Linked DNA regions of Homo sapiens: region 2 is linked to region 1. The links come from fine-mapping of genetic effects on gene expression. Tissue or cell type: caudate. Region 1 holds a variant in brackets; the other region holds the start of a gene. All regions are shown on one strand. Distances are between the middles of the regions.

What was found. PIP is the estimated chance that this variant, and not a neighbour inherited with it, causes the effect.
Region 2: it holds the start of MID1IP1, and the variant in region 1 is fine-mapped to the expression of MID1IP1 in caudate (GTEx, PIP above 0.99). The same link has a PIP of 0.9 or more in hypothalamus.

Annotation. Positions count from the first base shown.
Region 1 is chrX:38,840,370-38,848,707 of GRCh38, forward strand. No RefSeq gene overlaps it. Among named protein-coding and RNA genes, the nearest start is that of MID1IP1-AS1, 41 kb to the left of the region's middle. The variant G/A (reference allele first, on the strand shown) is at 5,143.
Region 2 is chrX:38,796,469-38,804,806 of GRCh38, forward strand. It overlaps MID1IP1 (MID1 interacting protein 1), which reads left to right and starts at 4,991. Exons shown (of 3, transcript NM_021242.6): 1 at 4,991-5,019; 2 at 6,067-7,945; 3 at 8,215-8,338. It overlaps MID1IP1-AS1 (MID1IP1 antisense RNA 1), which reads right to left and starts at 7,415. Exons shown (of 2, transcript NR_046706.1): 1 at 7,265-7,415; 2 at 4,780-5,324. RefSeq lists enhancers at 4,688-4,982, 5,012-5,091, 5,201-5,708, 6,042-6,883, 6,884-7,725 and a silencer at 7,528-7,747.

The DNA of each region.
Region 1 (8,338 bases):
AAGTGGTTCTAAGCTTTTCTATGAATTGCTCTAATGTTGCTCTCCAAGAAATATGTTAAAATTAGTCACTAAAATCTCATAGCAGAGACTCAGGCACTAAGACTCACTTGTAAACATAACGCAACCAAAGTTTCTTGTTTTAAAAAATCTAAAGATACTTGCAGAAATGTTATAGATTTTATTAAAAATTATTATCCTCTGAAGTGATCTAACAAATGTTTTAACATTTTGACAATAGAATATTATATATTTTGATATATGTGTCTCAATAGGCTTACCTCTATGTATGCTGTACTAAAGGAAATTGCATTCAATATCAGTTGCATGGAAGAGCAATTTTCCTGTTGATTGTACTTCTATTTATTTATCTATTTAATAATTAGATCTCAGATCTAATTATTAATTTAAGGGTACATCACTCAGTGTTAGTAAGTAAAAGTGTCTGTTGAGTCTAGTTAATTTTATAACAGTTATGGGGCACCAAATTAAATATGAAATGCAAATATATACAAAATGCAAATACATGAACAAACTGATAAAATTGCTAATTGCTCTGCCTTTTAAAAAAAAGCTTCTGTGTGGCAAATGTACCTAACAAAATATTGCTACTAGTTATAAAATTTCTTTGTTCCAAGCTTGATGCAAACAGATTAGGGATATAATCTGTCACATATACACATGAAAAGGTGGATTCTTGGAGACAATGGCTGTGAGGAGTATTTTCATTAGCTTGTCTCTGTGGTATTGTATTTGTGTATAATTGAAAAGTGAACTACTTTCATTTCCTTTTTAAAAACAGAGTCCTGAGACTGACAGGATAATGGAATGGCCAGTGGAATAGCATGATTTAAACCACTATTTGTTAGTCATGATGTCTTTGTGGACAACTTAGAAAAGTAACATCCTAATAATTCTACTATTGTGAAGTTTCATGGCTACTTGAACATTTTTAAAAAATTAGATTCTTGTCAGCTTAGGATGAGGTTTTTGGTAGTGGGTTCCAGACCTCTAACTTTGGCCTTTTCTTTTTTTACTTTCTTCAACTCTTTGAATGAAGACCCCAAAGACTCATGAATCAAATTTAGAAATGAACTAAAGCTGAAAGAGATTGTTAGACTGGGAGTGTTGGAAAATAAGTCAGAGAACAAAATAAATATTCAAAGATAATGTCATAAATTGGAGTTAGGAAACAAAAGCAGCAAAATTAAACCTAACAGAGATAAGTGCGAACTTCTCATTAAGGGTTCATGATTTAATCACCTGAGTGTAAGTTGGAAGGAGATCTCAGGACTTCTTATTAAAATGACCTAGGGGATTTAATTGGTTCCAACTTTAATACAAACCAGTAAGTCTACAAAGCTATCCAAAAGCTATGATTCCCTTGGCTATAAGTTACTCTAGGAAGAAGAGCCTGTTTTTCCTTCTCCCTTCAATCTATATCCGAGGAGGAGTATTTTTTTGGATTCAAATCTGGGACATGATTATGCTATGTTTGCCAGTGGACACAGTCACTGTGTATTAACAGGTCAGCACTTGGGTGTGACTATTTTGCTGTTCTTGGAAATACTACTGAAGTGGAAAAGGTCAGGGCCTACTTTCTATTAGAGACTCTCTTCCTCTCTCTTCTTTATCTGCCATCCATATGCCAGAAATGATAAGCCAATTCAGGGCTTACTCTCCTGGAGTATATCCAACAAACTAACTTTTCTTTTTTCTTGACGTGGGACTGGAGTATGGTTAGATCTAAAATTTGGGGGCAGGTAAAAACATTCACAGGCCTCACTCACAGCCTGCTTTGGGCTGAAGGCATTTACGCTAAGTAGCCTAGGAAAAAGGTTATGCTACACGTGGCCCAGCCCAAATATTACAATATCTCTTTTTGGAAGCTTGGGATCTAAATTCAGAAATCAATAAGGATTTGTTTCATTTTTCCTGTTTCATTATTTTTGTGTGTGTGTTTGTGTCTCTTTCATGAACCTCTCCCTCTCAAGGGAGGATGGCAGTGTCTAGAGTGGGCGATACATATTCCTGTATTCTTGGGACATTTTACCATTCAGAAGCACAGCACCCTATCCTTTACTACTTCTAATAGCTGGATTAAGAGGACAATATAAGAGTTAACATCCCTTTATACTCCAGACATATGTTTTTGACTCTATCGTACATCCCTATTTGGGGGTCCCATATGCACCTCAAAGGTTTATTTTCAAAATTTAACCTCTTTGTAACCTCTTCCCCTGACTCTCCACCCCTACTACTCACTTACAAATGTGCTTCTGCTGCTGTTTGAGTATTCTCTGTTCATTAAAGACATCATCATATTCCTTGTTTCTTGGCTCTTTTGACCCTCCATATTTAGTTTGACACCGATTCTGTCATCAATTAAAAAAAAGGTCTTTGGAACATATCTACTCCTGTCTTCACATAGTTTGCCATCACTATATATCACTTGGATTATTTTCAGTCATGGCCTATATTTCCATTCCTGCTACAATGCTTAGCACATAGTTTGTGACTGACTATGGAAAATATAGCTTTTATGTCTGCCTTCAAATGTTTAATGGAACATGATGTTTGAGAAGCAATAAATTTATTTTTTGGCTGCTTCAGATATCAAGGAGGCCAATTTTCATTAATGTGGGATAGAACTTAAGACAGATTGACTCCAACTATGGACTAAACCATTTCATAAATCTTTGAGCTCTTTATCATTGGAACTATTCAAGGAGAGACTGGATAGACATCAGGGAGAAGTGCTGTCAAAAGGATGCTGGCTTTAGTAAAATGTCAGACAATATGACTTTTAGGGTCTCTTTCCATCACAAGATTTGATGATTTATATATTAATTTTCAGGGATTAATTGAAATTAATTAATTCAATTCTGTTCTGACTGGTAGAATTAGAGATGTGTAATTTTTTCTTATTTCTTTCCAAAATTTTTAAGTTTTCCAAATAGAAGTGTATTACTCTCATAATCAGAAAATTTTCATCTTGAGTAAACTCAAAGACTTTGCTTTTTAAAAGAACATTTTGATCTCCCCTTTGAATATGAGCATAACCTTTCATTATATGTATCAAAGAAACATTTTTGTTATTGTGTATATGCCAACTGTTAGTTTGATGTAGGTTTGGCTCCATATAATAGAAAAGAAAACATAACAGTAGCTTAAACAAGCTAGAATCCTAGTTCTCTGTTTTTAAGTAAAAGAAGTTTGGATGTAGGTAGCCAGAAGTGGTATGGTGACTTCACCATGTCAGGCACCAACACTCCTTTATCTTGTTCAGCTGTATGTGACTTCAATTCCTAAGGTCACCTCATGGTCCAAAACAGCCGCTGAATATTAGCATTACATATGTGTTCTGAACAGCAGGAAAGAGGAAGGAGAAGATGGACCTGCCTCCTTCATTTTAAAGTTCTTCCCAGAAATACCAGACAACACTTTTTTATAAATTTCACTGGTGAGAATTTGGCCATAAGGTCATATCTAGCTGCAAGGAATTCTGCGGGGAAAATCAGGGCTTCGTTTCCAATGAGGAAGAAGGGAATGGTTATTGGGAAGCTAATAGCTGTCTCTGTTACACCTGTTGACTAAGGGTAAGCATAATACAGAATCATTAAGGAAATGTCACTGGCCACAGCTTCTTTGCTAATAGTTTTAGGAACTTCCTATTGGGCTCCATTTATTTAGATCAGTCAACAATTATTTGCTAAAAACCTGCTATTTGCATCATTTTTTTTCTTTTGTAGAATGGATTTGTACCTTCCCAATGGGGTTTTAGTGAGCATTAAATGAGATAATAATGTAGAACGCTTGGAAGAGCATCTGATATATATTAAGCACTCAATACATGTCAGTCATTACTCTGATTAATATTACTATTTGTGAAAGAATAAAAGTGAGATTGAAAACATAGTTCCTGCCTTAGGTTCCTTCTCTTCTGGTGAAGACAAGATACATAGATGTGAAGTAACTTCAGAATAAGTGTGCAATTAAAATCCAGATGTTATGGAGCAAAGTATATATTTTGTAAACATTTAAAGGCTAAAAAAGTCCCTATAAGGGTGTGTGTGTGTGTGTGTGTGTGTGTGTGTGTGTGAGAGAGAGAGAGAGAGAGAGAGAGAGAAATATCATGGAGTATTTATGAAGACCTAAGGCTTTAGGTTTTATGATATCTTAATTTTTTCTGGTCGCATAATTTGGTTTCATTTCCCAGAGAGGCTAACCACTGGCCTATATCATCTCAGGCTGGTAAGGGTCTTTCAGTTTCTTAAAAGTTTCAAGGCAGAGGCCACAGACTCCCAAATTTTTCTCTTATGTTTATTTGTGATACTGTAAGTATTAGCTTTTTTAGGGCAAAACTCATGAATTAAAGTAAAAAATTTTTTGTAGTTTAAGAATATAGCACCAACTTAAAATTGTATCAATTGAATTAACAACATCACTGGTATGGGAGAGAATGAATCACCTATTAGAACAGATATTGCCTGCTATTTTTTTTTAGAAGTAAAGTCTTTCCTAGCATTGCATTCTATTTTATGCAGTACATTTGCTAAGAGAATTCAAAAGTAGAGATTGGGCCCATTGTCCTTCATTCCAGCAGCACTGAAGGTCCAATTTCATCTTTTGAGGCTCTTAAGGAGCATACCACATAAAAAGGAATGGACTGCTTGCTATTCAGCCATAGCTGGAATAGCAATACCAATCATTATACTGTTATCTATTTGAAAAATGTGGATTTTACTTGGAGATGGTATTTATTGAAGCCTGCAAGAAATCTGCTTTCTGTCTACCTGGCAAGAGCAATTTGAAATGGAAAATTCAAGCTCAGAAATTCAGTTGAAATTTGAACTTCTCTATATTGCCATGGATTTTGGTATGATGATATATGCAAGGGTAGGGGTGAGGGGTGTCCACTGGCTTCTAATCCTGTGCTGTGCTTGTCTCCTGCTGCACAATAGGGCAATCGAAGGGAAACCTTCTCCAGCTTTATTAAAATGGGGAGGGCGTGGGATGCTGGGGCTGATGCACTTAAAATGCGCTCTGAAGCATCATGGAAATTTTGCCGAAGACTTTTTATGTAGCAACAATTCTATTGATAGAGTCAATGAGAGTTTTGTCTGTGCAAAAACTGCAGGATGG[G/A]CCCCCAAGTCACATGCTTTCAAAATTATTCTCCCTTTGTTGGATATCACAAAGAATATTTTCCCATGAAAACAAGATCTTTTGTTTCTCATGAATTCATTCTAATTGTAAAGCGGGCTGATAGGGTTACTGCATGTTCTTTTCTCGCACTGGCAGGTGGCCTGAGGGAGCTGGTGAAATGGGCTCAGTCATCTATTAAGTTTTTTCTGGTCTTAGTGTCATTTACTTATCATCTAAAACCGTAGTCCTTGATGTTCATCTCAAAAGGAGATAACAGTGATGTCACAGATACTGATTTGTTCCTATTTGGCTTTAAGAGATAGCAGGCAAAATATCCCTGCCTTTCTGGTTTCCTTACCTTTTTGCAAATGTGTATGACTAACAAAGAGAAACACATAGGAAATATAGACAGGTAGGGAAAGTTGAGACAAGTTACAGCATCAATTTTCAAAAGAACTTGTTAAATACTTCATTGCATGTGCTAGGTTCTGTGCAGAAAATAAAATAGGTACAATTTCCTCTTTATGAGGACTTACAATTTACCAGCCACTGTGCTGTGGTGAAAACATTTAGCAGCAATTTGGCAAGCATTTGCATAAATGCTCTGTAGAAGACCTGTGCTAAATACTGAGGATTTAAGACAGGTGAGGCCTAGGCTTGTCCCTCAAGAAACTCATGCAGAAATGCTATGTAATGATGTGGCAGTGCTGCAGCAAAAAAAAAATGAAATTAAAAGTGCAATAGGAACCAGATGAAAGACAATTCAGTACGTAAACATGAAAGACTGCAGCCAAAGCCCACAATATGTTAATGAAGGATAGGAAATGTATTTTTAAAAATTTCCTGTATGACCTATTGTGGAAAGCTTTGGCCAGATCTTTTGCACGGAAATCTTTAGTAAGTCCAATGATACAGTAACAAGTGAGAGGGTGCAGATTGTGCTGAGTTACAGGATGGAGGCTGGGGCTGTGAACCTCTCTAAATAGTAATTGTAATCTGTGGACTGTGCCAGTTGTGCATGCACACACAACCACATGATCACCAAACTTCTAGAGAGCATCTGTATGGAGCAGAGGAAGGTGAGATGAAGGAGCTTCATTCACTTTTTTTGTATCTTTGATCTTGAGGACATCTATTGTACTTTTTGTTTGCTGGCTCCCCATCTAATCTTGGAAACTGGACTGACCTTTGAGGTCTAGCATAGCTCATCTGTGGTGGGTTTTGGGGACAAGGTAGGCAAGATATGGTTGGAGGCAGAGATGACTAGAGAATATCGGACACGGACAAAACATGGTGTCACCTTTAGATCAAGAAAGGAGGACTTTGTGGTGAGTAGGATGTGAGTTGTTTCCTTAATTGGATGAGGGTAGTAGATTTCCCCCCTTTTTGGTTGAAGTAAGGAAGAAAACCCTGGTTAACAGGGATGAATGGGGGAAAGGAGATGTTCTTGGCCCAAGCATAGGGATCAGGTGCAGCATAGGCCTAAGGACAATGGAAGCATTTGGGCATCATTGAGCCTGGTTTGAGTGCAGGTTATTCAAGGGCAGGGATGCACCATTGTGAAGGGAGGTGGAAAGTGCTGATCTGGGACCTGATACAATGGTATGATGACCATAGTCTTACATTAGAAACAAAGGACACATGATTCGATGAGGGACTGTATCTGAAGATGAATAGGAAAGAGACAGGCAACACAGGCAGGGCATGTGATATTAGTAATCACAGCGATAAAATAACCAGAGAGTGACTCTATTAAAAATGGGGCTTCTAGTGAAGTCTAGATTGTAGGGGGAGAAAAACTATTGTTTTATATCAATCAAGCAACATCTACAGACGTTCAAGCTCTCTGGATTGCATTCGCTGCTTATTATACTGCTTTATCAGGTTTCCAAAGGTCCTGGTTGCACATTAACCTAGAAATACACAAAAGCCAAATTCGGTAGCTGGTATGGTGAAAAGAAGATTTTCTTTTTCATGTGTTGTCTTGAAGAGAGTCTGAAGGGGCTCAAATGATTCTCACATGCAGTCCTACAGTATAAAGGGACTTCCTGATCTTTAAGCATTTTCCTCCCTTATTCCTATCCCCTCTTTTTGTCTGACCCTAACTCTAAACATCTTTAAGAAAAGCACTTAGAAAAATATAAAATAAAAGCAGCTGGGTGGGTGGAGGTGGAGTGTGCTTTGGTTGTTCTTTGTCAAAGCTGCAGGCATTAAGTGAGCCAAGGCCTCACAGAAAGAGCTCTCTCTTGCTCAAGTGTCTGTGGATTTTGCTCTGCACCATTTCTTTGAAAATCTCCTTGACATAACCCTGATGTTTCTTCTTTCTCTTGCCTGACTGCAGCTGTACCTGACTCTTATTTTGTCACTTGCCAGCGGCAGGAGCTAGCAGATACATTTTACTAATTTCAGCTGTTTGGATTAGTATCACCATAAGTGGATTAATATGGATTTCATTAAAGAACCCTAAAGACTCAATCAAGGCCAAAAACTTCAGTCGGCCAAATCTACAATTCCTTATGCAACCCTCACTGATAACAAGGCTGCACCCTCCATTGCATAACCACCAAATAGACAAAGGATGGCAGACTTTTCATAAATACATATATCTAGCAATGGCCAGCACAGTGGTCCTCAATGTTCAACTGACTGGAGTGCCAAAAGTAAGAAAATGCTAGAAAAAAAAAATCTATTGATGAGAATATGTCAAAGGGACACAGGGGCTTACTGAAAAAGCTCCCAGTGGCTAAAGCTGGAAAAATTTGAGCAACAACATGAAGTAATATCGATTTAAAACCAAAAGTATGATATAAAAAAAAAAGAGAAAAAAGAGAAAATAAATAAATAAATAAAACCAAAAGTATAAAATAAATATCCACGAGTCATACTGATATAAATAAGTACTTGAATACATAAATAAATGGGAGAGAAAGACACAAGTCTCCTGTGCAGATAAATTCCAAATAATTTATGTAGGTTCTCTGCCTTCAAGGGATGGGATATAACTTCCCACTCCTGATGTGTTGGCTACAGGGACTTTCTTTCAAGCATACAATATAGAAGAGCTGGGGGAAGAGTAACTTTACAGTGGGGAAACCTGATAAATGCTATCTCAGCCAGGTGATCAAGGGTCAGCATCAACAGTGGTCAGTCATGTTGATGGTGTGTACCCTTGAAGTGATGTGACGAAAATGGCACT
Region 2 (8,338 bases), 44 kb before region 1:
AAATTTATTTAAGTATAAGATATATGCAAAAAAGTTCAAACATAAGTGTCAGCTCAACAATTTTTCACAAGATGAGCACACCTGTGTAACTAGCGCCTTGCACCCAGATGAAGAAAAAGAACATTATCATACCTACTACTTTAAATGAAATGTTAAAATTAATTTTACTTGAAATTACACTGAAAGAAATACTGAACTTTAGAAAACAGACTCTTTGCTATGGAATGTATTAGTTCCTAAAAGATCTCTTTAAATTGAGAAAAAATATTTTGTAAAGTTTTAAGATGTTTGTGTCTTTAGTTTTTAAATGGCACAATTTGGTTTTAGGCATCATTGATTGACCTGCTGCAATGAAAGTTGGTTAGCTCTGCTATTTTTCATTCCCCCATCTTCCAGTTTTGTTGCTTGCATTATTTTTTCATCTTCAGGGTTTAAAATATTTACGTTATATTCTGCAACCAGTATCCACACTGTTTTACCTTACTTCTGCATTTAAATTGATTCAAACTCACTATGAATCTCTTCATCAGGGTTTCTCCATTCCTGGATTACTCATTTAAATTAATTTTTTTTGTTGTTGGCAGGCTTCTACCAGTAAGTTTCTCAAGAAAAATCCTGAGTTCATGTTTGAGAATGTCTGCTTATTGTTTTTTGCTTGAGTAATATAATACTTTTGAATCATACATTCTTTCTTCCAGCTCCACTGTCTCCTGTAGTGGAATGTTTTTGTAAAGCTGGTTGGATTCTCTCCTCCCCTGAGACCACCATCTTTTTGGTGACTTCTTTTCCTGCTTGGACACTTGAAGGCTTTTTTTCTTCTTCTTTGAAGTTGAAAAATACAACTAGCTTGTTTTTCAACTGTTCTGCATAATTTTATCTGGTATATAGTATGCTTATTAAATCTGCAGATGAATGCATCTTGTCAAGGAAAATTTTCTATGTTACAACTGAATTTCTTCTATTTCACATGTTGAGGTCTCTTTGGAAACATCAGTTAAGCTTATATTGTGTGTGTGTGTGTGTGTGTGTGTGTGTGTGTGTGTGTGTGTATGTGTGTGTGTGTTTTGAGACGGGGTCTCACTCTGTTGCCCAGGCTGGAGTGCAGTGGCATGATCTCGGCTCACTGCAACTTCCGCCCCCTGGGTTCAAGTGATTCTCCTGCCTCAGCCTCCCAAGTAGCTGGGATTACAGGCATGCACAACCATGCCCAGCTAAATTTTTTTGTATTTTTAGTAGAGATGGGGTTTCACTATGTTGGCCAGGCTGGTCTCAAACTCCTGACCTCAAGTGATCTACCCACCTCAGCCTCCCAAAGTGCTGGGATTACAGGTGTGAGCCACTGCGCCTGGCCTATATTATGTTGTCTTTGTCTTCTCTATCCAACATTTCCTCTCCATTTTCTTTCACTCTTTTGTGTCTTTTCATTGGGATTACCTGAACCTTTTGCCCTATGCCAGTAACTGAATTTTCTGGCATGCCTGTTTTGTTCCTTGTTTGGAATTACATTTATTGACTCTCTAGTGATGTGTTTGGTTCAAATTTTGTTTCTTTTGCTCTGCAATATCCTTTTTCAAATCTTCCTAATTGTTTATTATTTTTCTATTCTTATCAAGGTCTTCTATAGCTGGAAGGACTTGTAGGTTGTATTTGCTTCTAGATTTACATCTTTTGTGTACTAACTCTGTCCAGACTGTCTAATATGATGTAGGTGAATTCGCCTTGACTTCATTGTACCTTGTCTAGGTCTAGTTTTTTTATTATTAAGGTTGGAAGAGTAAATTATGGAAGACTTGGGCGTGTAACTGTTGAACCCGTCCATTGGATAATGTATTTATGACACTGTAGCTTCAACAAAATGAAGCTACAACCCATATGTATATGTATATATGTGGATTTGTAATTAGGACTTGAACATATGAAATATTGATAATTATGTGTTTTCTCCCTAATTTGGTGTTATAATTTGTAAACTTTGAATCTAATTTCAGAATTTAAACTAACCAAGCTGACACATTTTAACAGGATAGAGTGAAGAAAGAACATTCTCATTCTTCCTTCTATGCTGATGGTACAAGAAAGTCCTGGAATCCTAAGGATCTAGGAAAAATCAACTTGAGAAGTTTCTATGTGGTAAGAAAAGCTATGATGTGTCTTGCCCTTTTCTCATCTACCATATTGAAATTGAATGTACAGTTCTGTATACGGTTCAGAGTTCTTAAAGATGTAGAAATGATGAGAACATAACAAAAGGTATTCTTTAGTATTCTCAACTTTCCCTGTGCTCTACTTCTTCCAAACGCAAGGCTAAAGACGCTTTAAAAAATGAGATTGTGACAAAATGCTAACTACGACATATTCAGACATTCCAAAACCTGAAAGTGGATCTGAAGCCAGCAGATTCACTACTCACTGTTCTTAGGTTTTGGCATTTTTCTGTCTACCTTCTCTCAACTAAACCTTCATGACGGTTTTTCCTGTAAGGACAATTACAATAAGATACACTCCCTTCCCCATCTTAACTCAGATTATTATGATGCTATTTCTGCATTTTTGTATCATGTGATGGTGGTTTCTTTGTGGTATATGACAAAAATGCCCTTCTTCTTGACTCCACAGGAAGAAAACTGGCTATTAGCTTGGGACTTCAGCAAGGCACTTAGCAAGGTCTCTCATAATATCCTGTGGTCAAGAAGAAAAATATAGGCTGGATGACTGTACAATTAACATGATTCATAGCTGGCTGGAACAACTTATGCCAAAAAGTGCCAATTAATGGACGGATATCAAACTGAAGGAGCTCTCCAGATGTTCTACAGCAATTTGCCTCTTGCCCAGTGGTGCCTGGTACCTATTATCAATAACTTGGATAAATATATAGAATAGTTATCAAATATATGGGTAAGATCCAAGTGCATTACAGCACAGAATCAGGACCCAAAATAATAAAACAGGCTGAACTAATGGGCCAAATCCAATGAGATAAAGTTTAAGTAGGATAATATAAAGTTCTGTACTTTGGTCCAAAAAATCCCCACTACTCAAGTATAGGGTACACAAAATTTTGTTATATAGATGGCAGCATATAGATGTAGCTGTTAAAATAAGTCCATTAAATGTTAGGCAGCATTATAAGCAGTAGCTATCTATTGAGTAGTAGAAAGAACATTGGATTTGGCATTAGAAAACTGGGTCAAATCCCAGTTCTGACAGTTTGGCCCTTAAACTCTTTGATCCTTGCTTTCTTCTCAGGGTGGTTGTGAAGTTAAAATGAGTTAACATGTCTTTTGAGTTAACAAGTCTAATTTCCAAGCACTTGTGCTCAATAAATATGACCTAGAAAAATTACCATTCACAATAATATAAGTGGCTGTGCCACTCCATTTTGTCCTAGAAAAGATGGTACTTGGAATGAGAGGGGCCACACTCAAAAGCAAACCAGAGCTACTTCTAAAGTTAGTGACTAGGATGGATGAGCGACTCAAAAGAGAACATGAAGAATGGCTACAGGAACTGGGGATAACTGACTTGAAGAACAGTAGACTTAAGGAGACCATATCTACCTTCAAACATCTGATGGTGTGCTTCATGGCCTTCTGTAGAGCTCCAAAAGATAGAAGAACACTGGAGAACGGAAAATAGAAGAATGTAGGCAAGGGCGACCACTTGGTGGGGATGTTGTGAGCGATTTCAGCACAAGTGGATGGTTGGACTACATGGCCTTTAACACGAGAGTCTGACTGTCATATTTCTAGGACATTTTTCATGAAATGGATCCTTCTAAGTCTGTCTCAAAATAATCCAGGATCTCTGCTATCTTGGGTTGGGCTGGCTTCTTGCCTTAAAATATCATCTTTCTTCCAGTTCTAGGCCAGATCTCTTCTTTATCCAGTCTGACTTTCTTGCACCAGTTTACTCTTGCTGACTACTTTGTTCAGGAATTTCTGGTCACTTTTAAAATGTCATTCCCCCCCCCCAAAAAAAAACTATCCAAGGGACACAGTACAAGGATAATTTGTGGACATTTTTGGGGAGATGAGCCAGCAAAGCATGCTTTCCAGGTTGCTTAATTAAAAGAGTGGGAATTAAGAACCAGAATTTAAGAGTTCCGGCAGGGCGCTGGTGGCTTACGCCTGTAATCCCAGCACTTTGGGAGGCCGAGGCGGGCGGATCAAGAGGTCAAGAGATCGAGACCATCCTGGCCAACATGGTGAAACCCCGTCTCTACTAAAAATATAAAAATTAGCTGGGCGTGGTGGTGCGCGCCTGTAGTCCAAGCTACTGGAGAGGCTGAGGCAGGAGAATCACTTGAACCCGGGAGGCAGAGGTTGAAGTGAGCCGAGATTGCTCCACTGCACTCCAGCCTGGCGACAGTGCGAGACTCCGTCTCAAAAAAAAACAAAACAAAAAAAAAGAGATCCAGAATTCCAGAATTGCAACTGTGAACCAAGAAGTGGGGATGGGTACCTCAGACAAGGCTTTTACCGGAAATTTAGCATATAGGATAGAAAGCAGAGACCAAAGACCTCTTGCTTTGAGGCTGTTGGCGTGCTACAAGGACTCGAAAGTTATTTGTTCAACGGATGACTTCTGTTTTCTGGAGGCAAACTGAATTCCGGGCAGGTGGCTCAGCACCTCCAGCCTGTTCCAGATCGGGACAGGGAAGGTGCCTGGGGCAATCAGTGAGGTTTCCAACCTTCCTTAGGCCTGGGCCAGCCCGCTCCCCTCCCATGTGACCCCAGGCAACCATTTTAATTTTTTTACAGCCAAGCGTAGTGGAGAACTGGCTGCGCGCCGGTTGCCAGGGACGCGGCAGCCAGCTTGGCGGGGCTGGGGTGAAAGAGGACGCTGCGTGGGGGAGGGCTCCGCGGCTTCTGACTGGCTGGAGCATCAGGATTCATTTGCATAATATTTTCTGACGGCTTCTGATTGGCTGAAGCCAGAGGGGCGGTGGTGGGGTGATTCCAAGGGCCCAGAGCTCTGGCCGGCGGACCTTTTCCTTCTGGAGTTTCCCCGGCGGGTGTGAGTTGTTGCGGGGTCTGGGGGAGCTGGGAGGCCCGGTTTGGGAAGTTTTGCAGGCAGGTGCATGAGCCATCTTTCTCTGAAAGTGTTTAAGAAATGTTCAAGAACAGCGGCCAGAGTCAAGAAACTGGGGGATGAAGGGTTATCTCGAGACTAGACGGAAGGAAACGTATCAGGGGAGGGGTGGAGGCCAGAAGGAAGGAGTTAGGTAGGGGCCCTCTCCCAAGCTGGCGTTTTTGCTGGGTGGAATCCTTTTGCTAGATCCCTTGGATTTCCGTTTTCCGTGTGTTATCACACTGTTGGAACTGGGAAGAAGAGAAAAAGAGGCAAGATTTTGGCATTTAGTAAGTTAAGTCTGAATACCGAGTTTTCATCCGGGTGCATACGTACTTAAAATACCAAATGGGTCCAGGAAGGGGGACAAAGTACGCTTTAATTTATGAGAAGATCAGCTACTAGAAACTGTATATCTGTTTTTCTCGAGTTTTCTTCTTGCAGTGCTCTTTCAATCTCATTGGACATATTTTATATTATTTTCCTGCTTAAGCACTGGGGGTTGGGTGGAAGGATCTGTGGCTCATCATAGGCAATTTCCACACTTTTAAGGTTTCTGACTCTTCACATAAACACCTCTCACTATGATGAGGTCCTGTATCAAGTACAATTAATCTTTGTACTTTACAATTTACATAGTGATTTTTATTTACATTATCATATTTAAACTTAATCAAAGTCCTTGGCACGGCCCATGGAACAAGCTCCATTTTTTTGATAAAGAAACTGAGGCTAGAAAAGTTTCTATGTGTGCAGAGAAGGAAGGTGAAATTATTTTAATGCTTCAAAGTTATATAATGCTTCCTGCCTCCCTGTATTTTTCTTTCCATTGATCTTCCTTCAAAACCCTGATAGGTCTATCCCAGTTTTGCAAGTAAGAAAACATGGGCTGTGATGTAGAGCTAATACGTTTTGGGGTAGTGGGTCCTCAGACTTAGGTCTGTCTCCAAGGGTCACTGACTTTGTTTTGTTTTGTTTGTTTTTTGTCAACAGATTAGTCCTTGTGGCACCAAGTCAGAATTTCATTCAAAAGACAATTAGGAAGATGGTTTTCTATGGAAAATATTTAAGTGTAGGTCTTAATGTGAAAGAAAGAGGGAGAGAAAGAAACCCCTTTATTATGTTCTCCCTTCCTTAGGCATTTTTTGTCCCGTGGGAAAAAACTGTACTAGGGACAGAGACCTCTGTTAAGTTTTAGAGAAAAGGGATCTTTTTTTTTTTTATTTGAGACAGAGTCTTGCTCTGTCGCCCAGGCTGGAGTGCAGTGGCACGATCTCGGCTCACTGCAACTCCGCCTCCTGGGTTCAAGCAATTCTCCTGCTTCATCCTCCCGAGTAGCTGGGATTACAGGCGCTGGCCACCACGCCCGGCTAATTTTTGTATTTTTAGTAGAGACCGGGTTTCACCATGTTGGCCAGGCTAGTCTGGAACCCCTGACTTTGTGATCCGCCCGCCTCGGCCTCCCAAAGTGCTGGGATTACAGGCGTGAGCCACCGTTTCAGGCCGAGAAAAGGGATTTAAAATGAGAAGCTTGAATCTTATTGAACATAATTGTAGGACTGCCAGAGAGGACTGGTGGATGAGGAATATGGCAAGGGACATGAGATGGGAAAAATTAAATAGGCTGTGGTTTGGAAGTCTCAAAGTGAAATTCAAGGTGCAAGGCTCTTAAAAGTTAAATCCAGCGATTCGGTACATAGCTTAGGCCCTATTAAATGACCCAGTGCTTTAAGAACTATCTTTTGAAAGGAACACTTCACACAAGCACCCTCAAAAATAATTAGACACCTCCCCATTTCTCTGTTAAATGGTGAAAGACACCCAAGACTAGACCTAACTACTGTCACCCTCTCCTGGCCTCTTGGCAGCCAAAAGGCCACATGGCCCAGGCTCTCCAGCATCACTGTGTAGCCGACTTGGACAAAAATGGACTTCTCCCCATTGCCACTTGCAGATCTCTTCAAAGAATCAGCAGATCTGATAGTGTGCCCCTCTTCATCCCCGGCAACCACTGTTAAAGGAAAGATTGGGAAAGATCCCACCCCGCCAGGAGGGAGGCAAAAGCCTCTGACGCTCCCCTCCCCCCATAGCTGACCAAGGCCAGGGCCACTGCGGGAGCACCGCGCGTCCACGTGCACCCAGCATGCCCGGTCACCCTTTATTACGTAAGAGTCCCAGGATGGAGTTGTACCTGCTGCCGGCCCCTCTTCCCCGACGGCTAATAATAAACCCGGGTTCCTGTTTCCCGGCCGCGGCCACTCCAGATTCGGGGCTGAGGGGCTCACTCTGCAACCAAGGCACGTGCATTCTGGTCATCCCACGCGGGGAGCGCGCGCAAGGCCCGCCCAGCCCCCACATGCCAGCCCCACCCTCCAGTCGGTCCGGACGCCGACGCCTTTTTGACCCTCGCTGTGCCCGGCCCTCCTCATCTGGCCTGCCCAGGGCTTGGTGCTGGCGGGGTCCAGCTGCTCCAATCCCTCCTCCTCTGCTCTGCCCTGCCCTGCCCTGGCCTGCCCCGGCGCCCTCCCTCAGCCCGGGTATCAGGCGAGAGGCGGAGCTGGCCCGGCGCGCCCCGCCCCCGCTGTAGAAAGGGCCGGGCGAGTGTTACTCGCGGTCATCCCGGCCTGGGCCTTTTATCTCGGTGCTGCCGGGGGAGGCGGGAGGAGGAGACACCAGGGGTGGCCCTGAGCGCCGGCGACACCTTTCCTGGACTATAAATTGAGCACCTGGGATGGGTAGGGGGCCAACGCAGTCACCGCCGTCCGCAGTCACAGTCCAGCCACTGACCGCAGCAGCGCCCTTGCGTAGCAGCCGCTTGCAGCGAGAACACTGAATTGCCAACGAGCAGGAGAGTCTCAAGGCGCAAGAGGAGGTGGGTGCCCACGCCCCATCGCTGCCCCGGCCAGCTTGGTTGCTTGAGCTCAGGCTTTTCGGAGGGAGAAGTTGTGGTGGTGGGGGGACACCCTTCTCCCCGCGGCCGTAGGTGGGCGAGGAGGTGGGACTGCCCAGCCGCGGGGAGCCACCCAGGCGCCGTCCCGGACGAGCTGTAGCCAGAGAAGGGGGTGCGCGCGGGCAAGGGCGCCAGGCCCCCTAGCAGGGTGAATAATCTAATCTGTTCTTTCGTCTCCGTGTATCAAACAGGCCAGGGCTCGACCCACAGAGCACCCTCAGCCATCGCGAGTTTCCGGGCGCCAAAGCCAGGAGAAGCCGCCCATCCCGCAGGGCCGGTCTGCCAGCGAGACGAGAGTTGGCGAGGGCGGAGGAG